Homo sapiens: one gene and its partner. The protein of the gene in region 2 interacts with the protein of the main gene of each other region in a biochemical or structural test. Each region holds a gene or a part of one and is shown on either strand. Other genes may lie near its edges.

What was found.
Region 1: the proteins of TBCD (region 2) and ARL3 form a complex in vitro, tested with the Homo sapiens proteins (one study listed by IntAct).

What each region holds. Positions count from the first base shown.
Region 1 is NC_000010.11:102,672,992-102,676,450, reverse strand, and holds the end of ARL3 (ADP-ribosylation factor-like protein 3), read left to right. Parts: 3' UTR 1-2,720; downstream 2,721-3,459. UniProt on the Homo sapiens protein: Small GTP-binding protein which cycles between an inactive GDP-bound and an active GTP-bound form, and the rate of cycling is regulated by guanine nucleotide exchange factors (GEF) and GTPase-activating proteins (GAP).
Region 2 is NC_000017.11:82,761,887-82,769,178, reverse strand, and holds part of TBCD (tubulin-specific chaperone D), read right to left. Parts: intron 5,215-7,292; coding exon 5,117-5,214; intron 2,913-5,116; coding exon 2,811-2,912; intron 760-2,810; coding exon 613-759; intron 1-612.

The DNA of each region.
Region 1 (3,459 bases), on a different chromosome or scaffold from region 2:
AGACAGTGTTTGCTGGTGCTGTCAGTGATTTTTACCGTCACTAGCCCAGCCAGGCTTCAGTCTGTCCGACAGGAAGCTGCTGGGTGGGGGTGGGGGGAGAAAAGGCAGATAATTAAACCATCTCATCGTCTTGCAGGTCGGAGACTACGTATGTAATCCTCACTCTTTGGACAGAAAAAAAAAAAAAAGTCTTTCTTGCAGACAAGTCACTACAGAAACATACCCCATCCCACCCACCCCTGCCTCTGCCCCAGCCAGCCACACAGAGAAGCAAATTCTTATGACTTTTGACTGTAATGACATCTGGAATGTAAGGAGAGGTGGGAGGTTTAATTCCAGAAAAATTACAAGGTCCTTAAAAAGCTCTCACATCGAGGGCTCAGGCTAGCGTAAACAGGCTTTCTCCAGCTCAGTGGAGCAGTGAGCAGCCGACTCTGAGATTAGCTGGCTTCTCCACGGCCGTCCTATAGACAGGATTTCTAAAGCTCAAAGAATTCTGTGTTTAAACGATCACAATAGGCCGCTGCTATCAGATTTTAGAAATAAATGCAGCTTTACCATGAACCTGCTCCACTGAGAAAAGCCAGGCAGATCGATTTTTAGATCAATTTTTACAGTGCTGGCAACTTGGTGGTGTGGGATGCTCCTGGATGGAGAGGGTTTGCTGCTGGGGAGGACATGGGTGTGTGTGTGACTGCAGGGGTCGTGTCCAAGGAATCAAGAGTCACCCCAGCTGCTGGGCTCCTCTGCCTCTCTGCAGCAGAATGTCCGTCCTCTGTTGATTGATTGGAGAGGAATAGCAGAACATTTCTCCTGCCCCTCGTTGCAAAACGAGCTTGTTTCCCTGAACCTCAGAAATCCTCAGCTTCAAACATGGGGAAACAGGCCAGAGCATTGCCCGGCTCCTGAATTAAACTCTGTTCTGGTGCCTGAGCTCAGGGGTTTTCAGAGAATGAATAAGAGACTGTCCAGTGACTGGTGGGTCCCTGGGGGCCAGCTGCCTTCTCATCCTGGGAGGTGGCCCTTCCCAAGCCCATCAGGGCGTGTGAGCAGACTGAAGGGGCCGCTGCAGCCCCTGGCCCTCAATACCCAGCTGCTTCTGGCTAAGAGTGCAGCAGAGACTGAGGCATAGCCAGCTTCAAAAGCGATCTGACATGAAAGTCATTAACAAAGCCAGCCGTGAAAAGGTGCCCCAGAGTTGCTGTGGACAGACCTGTAAGGACTTGCAAAACAAAAGAAAGTGAGGGGTTTTTTTAACCTCAGAGCTAGCTGCTCTCTGCAGCCTCCTCCACTGGCTTCTCTGGCTCACCCAAGCTCTCCCTTACAGAGGCAACACAGAATTATAAGGAATCAGAAATCCCCCTTCTACCAGGCTGCAAATGTGGCTCTAGCACTTGCAAATTGTTTTTTCTTCCGAATAGTTCAGCAGGGACAAGTTATCTGAGGGGCAAAATGCCTGCTTGGAGGTCTGCAATTTTGGAACACTGCAGTATGGAACTTTGGCATTGGAGGGTCTGTAAAATATTTTTGTTCTTTTACCACCAACTTAGGGGACTGTTTTAAAGAGCCATCCCAAGGCCTCTCCTAGCAGGCAGAAGCCACTCCTCTGATAACGGCCTCTGTAAATGTTCTGATTTGCTCTCAGCTGCAGAGACACAGAGACACTGCAGATGTCACACGCTTTCATCTTCCCTTTGAGCCCTTTTGAACCCTCCTGGGGCTCTGGGGTAGATGAGAGAAGCCTGAAAAAGGCAGAGTTTGAAAGCTCCCATTTAAAAACAAAATACTTTTTAAAGCCCTCTTGCCTCTTCCCTGCCCACTCCTGCCCCCTGACCAGAAGACAGAATTTGAAGCTGGAAAGGGAAGACCCCTTTTCCCCTCCTCCTGTCCCCAGTGAGTCTTAGCGAGACTTTTGCCCTGCGCACAATTGCATCTGAATGTGCGGGGGAGAGGGCTGGGGGCCGGAGGGCAGGCAAGGCCTGGGGGGTGCTCGTGATATGTGCTCAAGCCAGTTGTGGGAAAAACTCGAGTCCTCCCCTCCTCCCGACCTACCCCGTGTGGCTGCTTTTGGCTGGATTCCCTGCACCCAGTGCAACACACCCTTTCCCCTTCACTCTCCCTTGGTTACTATGGAAACAAGGGTGTCATTGATGTGGGCTGAGCTGGGGAACATGTCGGTGCACAGCTGAAAGTCAGCGATTATGCCGGCGGTTAGAAATGTGCCAGGGTTAAAGGAGTCCGCAGCTCCCACGGCTGCTGGGAGGACATGGTCCTGCCCCCTTCCTTCCTCCCTCCCTCCGTCTCCACTTCTCTCTCCTTGCTTTTGACAAATTTCTTTATTCCCCTCTGGACTAAAGTAGTGGCTATTTTTGTGCCACTCTGCGCCCCACCCTCACTGTTGGCCGCTCCTTATCCGGCCTGGCCTGGAGGGTGACACCATGTCACCCTCACCAGGACTCGTCTCTCCATTCCCGTCAGAGTTTGCTTTGATTTCCCTTTCCTTTCCTTCTCGGGGACCAGTTCTTACTTCCTTTTATTTTTAGCTCTGCACTCCATGTGGTTTCAGGGTTCAGTCTGATCCATCAAAAGGTTCTTTTTTTATAATCCCTTTTGAAAATGATAATCAAAGGAAGAGATGTGGTGTTTGGTCATGTGGAAAACTCAATGTATAATTTAGACGTCTGTCAAAAATCCGACAAATAAAATTTAGCTGGAACGAAGGCAGCCTGGAATGTGTTGTGTTCTTTGCTGAAGCTCAGAGAGGGCCTGAAATGTGTTTGTCCTTTCAGGGGTTAGCTTTCTTCAAGAGGTTTTTTCCAGAAGGATATATATATAAAATAGGATACCAACAATAGCAATAATAGCCCTTCATTAAGCCCCTCCTACGTGCCGGGCACTTCAGATACATCGTGGTGAGCATTAGTCCCCCTTTGCAGCAGAGGACATTGAGACATTTGCCCCAGTTAAGGAATTTGCCTGAAATCACAGAGCCTTTAAGTGCAGGTGGGGCCTGGAGCCTGGGTCTCAATGCTCAGCAAGCTGCCGCCTCTGGAGAACAAAAACAGTCAATGGCAAGGCCGGATCACGCCTGTAATCCCAGCACTTTCAGAGGCCAAGGCAGGTAGATCTCCTGAAGTCAGGAGTTCAAGACGAGCCTGACCAACATGGTGAAATCCCGTCTCTACTAAAAATACAAAATTAGCCGGGCGTGGTGGCACGTGCCTGTAATCCCAGCTGCTTGGGAGGCTGAGGCAGGAGAATTGCTTGAACCCAGGAGTCAGAGGTTGCAGTGAGCTGAGATCGTGCCATTGCACTCCAGCCTGGGCAACAGGAGAAAACTCCATTGCAAAAAAAAAAAAAAAAAAAAAATTTGTCAATGGCTCATCTCCCAGCAGCCTCAGCCCCCCCAGCCTCTGAGTGCTACTTCTGCCCAGCCTCCTCCCCTCAGCCTCTGACAAG
Region 2 (7,292 bases):
GCAGCTGTGGGCAAGCTTGACACAAAGGACCCAGCTCAGCCATGCCAGACTCCCGACCCACAGAAACTACAAGAGGATAAATGTGTGTCAAACACTCAAGTTTGGGGTAATTAGTTATGATCCAATAGATAACTAATACAATAAGCTGTGTTTATATGCATAATATTTACATCAGGAAAAGTTCGGAGAAAATAAACAACTTATCTCTTGGCACTAGAATTTCATAAATTTAAATTTAGTATTTTTCTTGCTTATCTTTATTTTCTAGTTCTCCTACAAATGAGCATCTATTATTTATATAACGTTAAGAACTAAATGTAAAATGGGTCCTTATTCTCTCTCACCATGCCACTAAACCCTTCCTTATCTGCCATGATTACCCTCAACAGAGTATTTGCATCATCTACAAAGAAATGAGATTTGCTAACTCAACCTGACCCCTACATGAATTATCACAATTTCAAAATAAGTTATCCTATGGGATTTTACCCCACTGAAAAAAACAGCAGTTGAATACATATCAGAAGCTTACCGAGTAAACCACTAACATCAAGACAGCATGAACATGAAAGTGAGTACTAATTAGCAGCTAATTATCTGCATGATATTTACCTCTGCTATTTGGAGAATACGGTCCATTATGGACATTCGTGCTTGCCCAGGCTGGGTGAGGAGGTTCCCGTCAAGGCGAGAAAAATCAAAAGGGATCAGGCAGGTCACGGAGAGCCAGAGCAAAAGCATGTAGCGGGTTTCCCAAGCCTAAAAAATTAAACCACGGGAAGAATGAGTCTTGCTTGAAAATCACAGGCCACTGGCCACAATCTACTCAAAGTCACTGCCCTCCATGCCCACCCAATGCCTATGAAAGCCATTCAAATGCCATCACCCTCAGGGCCAGAAATGCAAGCCGTTCACCAACTCCTCGCCACATCCCCCCCGGAATCCCCACCACACACACCTACCGCCGTAACTTAGCTCAGCAGACAAGAGAGACATCAAAATGAACAAAGAAAAATCATAATACATCAGTATAGCAGCTTCTCTTCGCTGGCACCTCTCCACATACAAACTGGCCTTTTGAAAAAGTGAAAAACAGATAAAAAGTAAAAACACCTAAGAATAAAGAAAAAAGGCCAGGTGTGGTGGTTCACACCTGTAATCCCAACACTTTGGGAGGCCGAGACGAGCGGATCACCTGAGGTCAGGAGTTCCTTTTTTTTTTTTTGAGATGGAGTCTCGCTCTGTTGCCCAGGCTGGAGTGCAGTGGCGCAACCTCGCTCACTGCAAGCTCCACCTTCCGGGTTCACGCCATTCTCCTGCCTCAGCCTTCTGAGTAGCTGGGACTACAGGCGTTTGCCACCATGCTAGGCTAATTTTTGTATTTTTTGTAGACACAGGGTTGCACCGTGTTAGCCAGGATGGTCTCGATCTCCTGACCTCGTGATCCGCCCACCTTGGCCTCCCAAACTGCTGGGATTACAGGCACGAGCCACCGTGCCTGGCCGAGGTCAAGAGTCCTAAACCAGCCTGACCAACATGGAGAAACCCTGTTTCTACTAAAAATACAAAATTACCCTGGCGTGATGACACATGCCTGTAATCCCAGCTACTCAGGAGGCTGACACAGGAGAATCGCTTGAACCTGGGAGACAGAGGTTGCAGTGAGCCAAGATTGTGCCATTGCTCTCCAACCTGGGCAAGAAGAGTGAAACTCTGTCTTTTTAAAAAAAAAAGAATAAAGAAAACAATTATCAACTTCTAATAAAAAAGGAGTACCCTTATTTTCAGTAATTAGTAAAAAACATCCCAATTTGTCCCTGCAATCATTCCACTGGGGGGCGCTAGAAGTACTAGGGAAAGAAGGGCACGGAGTGCAGGGCAGCAGGGAAATGCCCCACAGCGCTCATCAGTCACATCCACGCCGAGACAAGCCACCGCACTGCACGGTTATAAACCGTGTGCTCCTCCAAATACATACCACGCAGAAGACAGCGAGCATAGCAGGCCCCGCTGCCGTCTGAGGCAAGGCCCCTGACGAGGCCGGCCCTGGGCTGGTATCCAGGGACCTGGACACCAGCAGGGTTCCCACCAAGCCCTGCCTGATGAGGTCCCTCGCTGGCTCAATCTGCACAAACCGTGTGCTTTACGCTGGCACCTGCTTTCCTGCTGGGGGTCTGGAATTTCGTTTCGTGCCAGGCAGAGGTGTCCATGTGGCCAGACCCCAGTGAAAGCTCTGGGCACCAAGTCTCAAACGTGCTTCTCTGATAGACACCTCACAGGTGTGGTCACATCTCACTGCTGGGGGAATGACACAGGCCCTGTGGGACCCAACTGGAGGACCCCGGGAGCTCCCGCCTGGTTCTCCCCAGACCCCACCCATGTGCCTTTTCCCTTTGCTGATTTTGCTGTGTATTATTTTGCCATAACAAGTGACAGCCAAAAGGAGGACTCTATGCTGAGTGCTGTGAGTCCCGCTCAGGAAGTATCAAACCTGGGGGTGGTCTTGGGAACCCAACACAGTTATACTTACACAGTTAAAAAAACATAGAAACAATGACGGATTTATTGTTAAACTACACCTAGGCATAATTTTTTTTATAAAGGGGCTATTTTAAACGAAAATAATTTAAAGCAACTTGTACAAGAAGTAAAGGAAAAGTGAAAAGAAAAGAAAGAAAAGAGGAGTGACACAAAACAAAGGGAGATAAAATGAAAGAAACAGGAAGGGGAAGGTGCAGCAGGGTGGGGCAAGCAGGGAGGAAGGACAGGCACGGAGGGCTGGAGACGAGGGGGGAGGCAGAGACACTCACTTCATGGTCCTTGGGATTCTGAATTGTGACCAAATCTAAAACAGGCTCTACATCGGCAACTTCATGAGGAAATAAACGAAGAAATGTTTTATAGCCTCGAACCTATCAAATAAAGAGATGCTGAATTATAACATTTAAAAATACAGAGAGCAGCAAAATTGCCTTTCTACCCTTTCATCAAAAATCACCAGCTACGCGACCCACTGATCAAAGAGAATTCTGTGACATTACAGTGACACAATTTAGTAAGACCGTAGTCACCCCAAGAAAGCTACCCATGGCCAAGAGCGATGGCTCACACCCGTAATCCCAGCACTTTGGGAGGCCGAGGCAAAAGAATAGCTTGAGACCAAGAGTTGGAGACTAGCCTGGGCAACATAAAAAATTAAAAATTAGACAGGATGGTGGCACATGCCTGTAGTCTGAGAGGATGAGGCAGGAGGGAGAATCATTTGAGACCAAGAGTTCGAGGCTGCAGTGAGCTGACTGCATCACTGCACTCTAGCCTGAGTGACAGAGCAAGACCCCATCTCTCAAAAAAAAAGATTTCCTTCCTAAATTGGTAGTGTTATTCATTACCATATTTACGGAATCAGTCATTAAATATGTTCATTTATATGACTGTCCTCTGACATTTATGAGGAATAAGTGCCTACAAACCGCAAGGGCCCAAATTCATTAACACTTCCCTGAAGCTCAGTGATACCACGCCTTCCGGAGAAATCCTAACCTCAAACAGAGGAGCTACAGAGGCCTGCGTGTCCTTGGCAGCTCACCCGCAGTGTCCTCTCGCTGGCCAAGGACTTTCCCGCCAGACAACAGAAATGCGCCTCGCCACTACGAACCCCAAGCCCCACCCTGAGACGGCTGTGAGTACTTCCATAGTCAAAACTGCCAACAGTGAGCCTCTGGGCCAGCACACAGACACCCGCAAGCTTGTAAGAAAAGCAGACTATGAGCACAGACACCCGCAAGCTTGTAAGAAAAGCAGACTATGAGCAGACACCCGCAAGCTTGTAAGAAAAGCAGACTATGAGCACAGACACCCGCAAGCTTGTAAGAAAAGCAGACTATGAGCACAGACACCCGCAAGCTTGTAAGAAAAGCAGACTATGAGCACAGACACCCGCAAGCTTGTAAGAAAAGCAGACTATGAGCACAGACACCCGCAAGCTTGTAAGAAAAGCAGACTATGAGCAGACACCCGCAAGCTTGTAAGAAAAGCAGACTATGAGCACAGACACCCGCAAGCTTGTAAGAAAAGCAGACTATGAGCAGACACCCGCAAGCTTGTAAGAAAAGCAGACTATGAGCAGACACCCGCAAGCTTGTAAGAAAAGCAGACTATGAGCACAGACACCCGCAAGCTTGTAAGAAAAGCAGACTATGAGCACAGACACCCGCAAGCTTGTAAGAAAAGCAGACTATGAGCACAGACACCCGCAAGCTTGTAAGAAAAGCAGACTATGAGCACAGACACCCGCAAGCTTGTAAGAAAAGCAGACTATGAGCACAGACACCCGCAAGCTTGTAAGAAAAGCAGACTATGAGCACAGACACCCGCAAGCTTGTAAGAAAAGCAGACTATGAGCACAGACACCCGCAAGCTTGTAAGAAAAGCAGACTATGAGACCCCCGCCTAGACCTACTTGCTCAAAATCTATAGCACAGCAAAATTCCCAGGAAATTCATCTGCACATTAAAGTGTGAGAAGCACTTCCATTTCCACAGAGTCTCGCTCTGTCACTCAGGCTGGAGTGCAACAGCATGATCTCGGCTCACTGCAACCTCTGCCTCTCAGGTTCAAGCCATTCTCCCGCCTCAGCCTCCCAAGCAGCTGGGATTACAGTCATGTGCCACCAAGCCCAGCTAATTTTTGTATTTTTAGTAGAGACGGGGTTTCACCATGTTGGCCAGGCTCATCTCGAACTCCTGACCACAGGTGATCCACCTGCCTCAGCCTCCCAAAGTGCTGGGATTACAGGCATGAGCCACCGCACCCGGCCTGCTTTCTCCTTGTAAGAAGTTTTTCTGATTTAGTCTCATCTCCACCCCATTCCCTTCCTAGCTACACAGTGCTTCAATCTATTCAAATGCAAGATGCTGAATATCCTGACACTGTTTCAGCCAAAGAGCCCACATCACTAAATTCTGATCCCCAACATACAGTAAAAAGGGACAGAATTAAACCCACAACTTGTGTCTAAGAACTATCTTTCTTGAGAAATAACATTTTGGAGGGTAACCTCTGGACCAAGTATATTACAAAAGTATCTGTCAACTCTGAAGTGCTATGGAAATGTTACCTTGGTGATGATGTAAAGAAATTTAAAAGCCAGATGTACAAGGGAAGCTGGAGATGTCTGATCTTGCACTATGTCCAACAACAAGTTCATCATCCATTCTAGGGAAAAACATAGGAAACATTTACTGTAAAAGTGAACATCAACATGACATTGAGGCCGGCCAGGTGTGGTGGCTCATGCCTGTTTTCCCAGCACTTTGGGAGACCAAGGTGGGAGGATCATTTGAAGCCAGAATTTCAAGGCGGCAATGAGCTATGATCCTACTATTGCACTCCAGCCTGGGCAACAGAGCAAAACCCGTCTCTTTTTTTTCTTTTTTTTTGAGACAGAGTCTTGCTCTGTCCCCCAGGCTGGAGTGCAGTGGCGTGATCTCAGCTCACTGCAACCTCCACCTCCCGGGTTCAGGCTATTCTCCTCCCTCAGATTCCCAAGTAGCTGGAATTACAGGCACGCGTCACCACGCCTGGCTAATTTTTGTATTTTTAGTAGAGACGGGGTTTCACCATGTTGGCCAGGCTGGTCTCGAACTCCTGACCTCAGGTGATCCACCCACCTCGGCCTCCCAAAGTGATGGGATTACAGGTGTGAGCCCACCGCACCTGGCCCAAAACCCTGTCTCTTAAAAAACAAAAACAAACAAAAAGACATAGCTAGGTTAAACGTAAGCAAAAGGAAAAAGATATTCCAACCAATCACAAATCATAAAAGAGCTGGAGTGGCTCTGTTAATATCAGACAAAGTAAATGTCAGAACAAGCATTACCATCAGAGATAAACAGAATGTTTCATGATAATAAAAGGATCAATTCATCATGAAGACTTAACAATTCTGTAAGTATACACACCAACCTACAGAGCTTCAAAATAAGCACAGAAGAAGCTGAGAGAAATGAAAGGAGACACGGTTGAAAACTTCGACACTCCTGTTTCAGGAACTGATAGAACAAGTAAGAGAAAATCGCTGAAACCTAAACAGCACTATCACCCACCTTACTTACGTGACATTTAGAGAACAATCTACCCAACAACAGAACAGACATTTTTCTCAAGTGCACGCGGAATGTTCAACAAAACAGACCATACGCTGGGCTGCAAGTCTTCATACATGGAAAACAACTGCAACTGGCATCCGGGAAACGCAGAGAAGGACACAACGAGATACACTCCCTGAAATCAGAGAGACTGGCAACGCTGAGTGCTGAAGAGAACCCAGAGCAGCTGGAATCCTCATACCTTGTTGGTAGAAATGGTCAACAGTACAATCTTCATGGCATCAGTATGGCAGGTGATGAGTCACACACTTTTTTTTTTTTTGGAGACAGAGTCTCACTCTGTGACCCAGGCTGGAGTGCAGTGGTGTCATCTCAGCTTACTGCAACCTCTGCCTCCCACATTCAAGTAATTCTCGTGCCTCAGCCTCCTGAGTAGCTGGGACTACAGGCACCTGCCACCACACCCGGCTAATTTTTTGTATTTTAGTAGAGATGGGGTTTTACCATGTTGCCCAGGCTGGTCTTGAGCTCCTGAGCTCAGGCAATCCACCTGCCTCAGTCTCCCAAAGTGCTAGAATTACAGGTAGGAGCCACCGCGCCTGGCCAAGTCATACACTTTCTACAAGTAAGACACTTTCTGCTACTCAGCAATTCCACACATGCGTATTTTCCCAAGAGAAAATAAAACCTCTGTCTACCTAAAAACTTGTACATAAACATTTTCACAGTAGCATTACTTTTTTTTTTTTTTTTTTTGAGACGGAGTCTCGCTCTATCACCCAGGCTGGAGTGCAGTGGCAAGATCTCGGCTCACTGCAACCTCCACCTCCCGGGTTCAAGCAATTTTCCTGCCTCAGCCTCCCAAGTAGCTGGGACTACATGCGCACACCGCCACACTGGGCTAATTTTTTGTATTTTTAGTAGAGATGGGGTTTCACCGTGTTAGCCAGGATAGTCTCAATCTCCTGACCTCATGATCTGCCCACCTCAGCCTCCCAAAAAGTAGCATTATTAATAACAGCCAAAAACCGGAAACAACTCAAATGTCCATCAACAGATAAAAGAAGAAACAACCCCAGCACTTTGGAAGGCTGAGGCGGGCGGATCACGAGGTCAGGAGATCGAGACCATCCTGGTTAACAAGGTGAAACCCCGTCTCTACTAAAAATAAAAAAAAAATTAGCT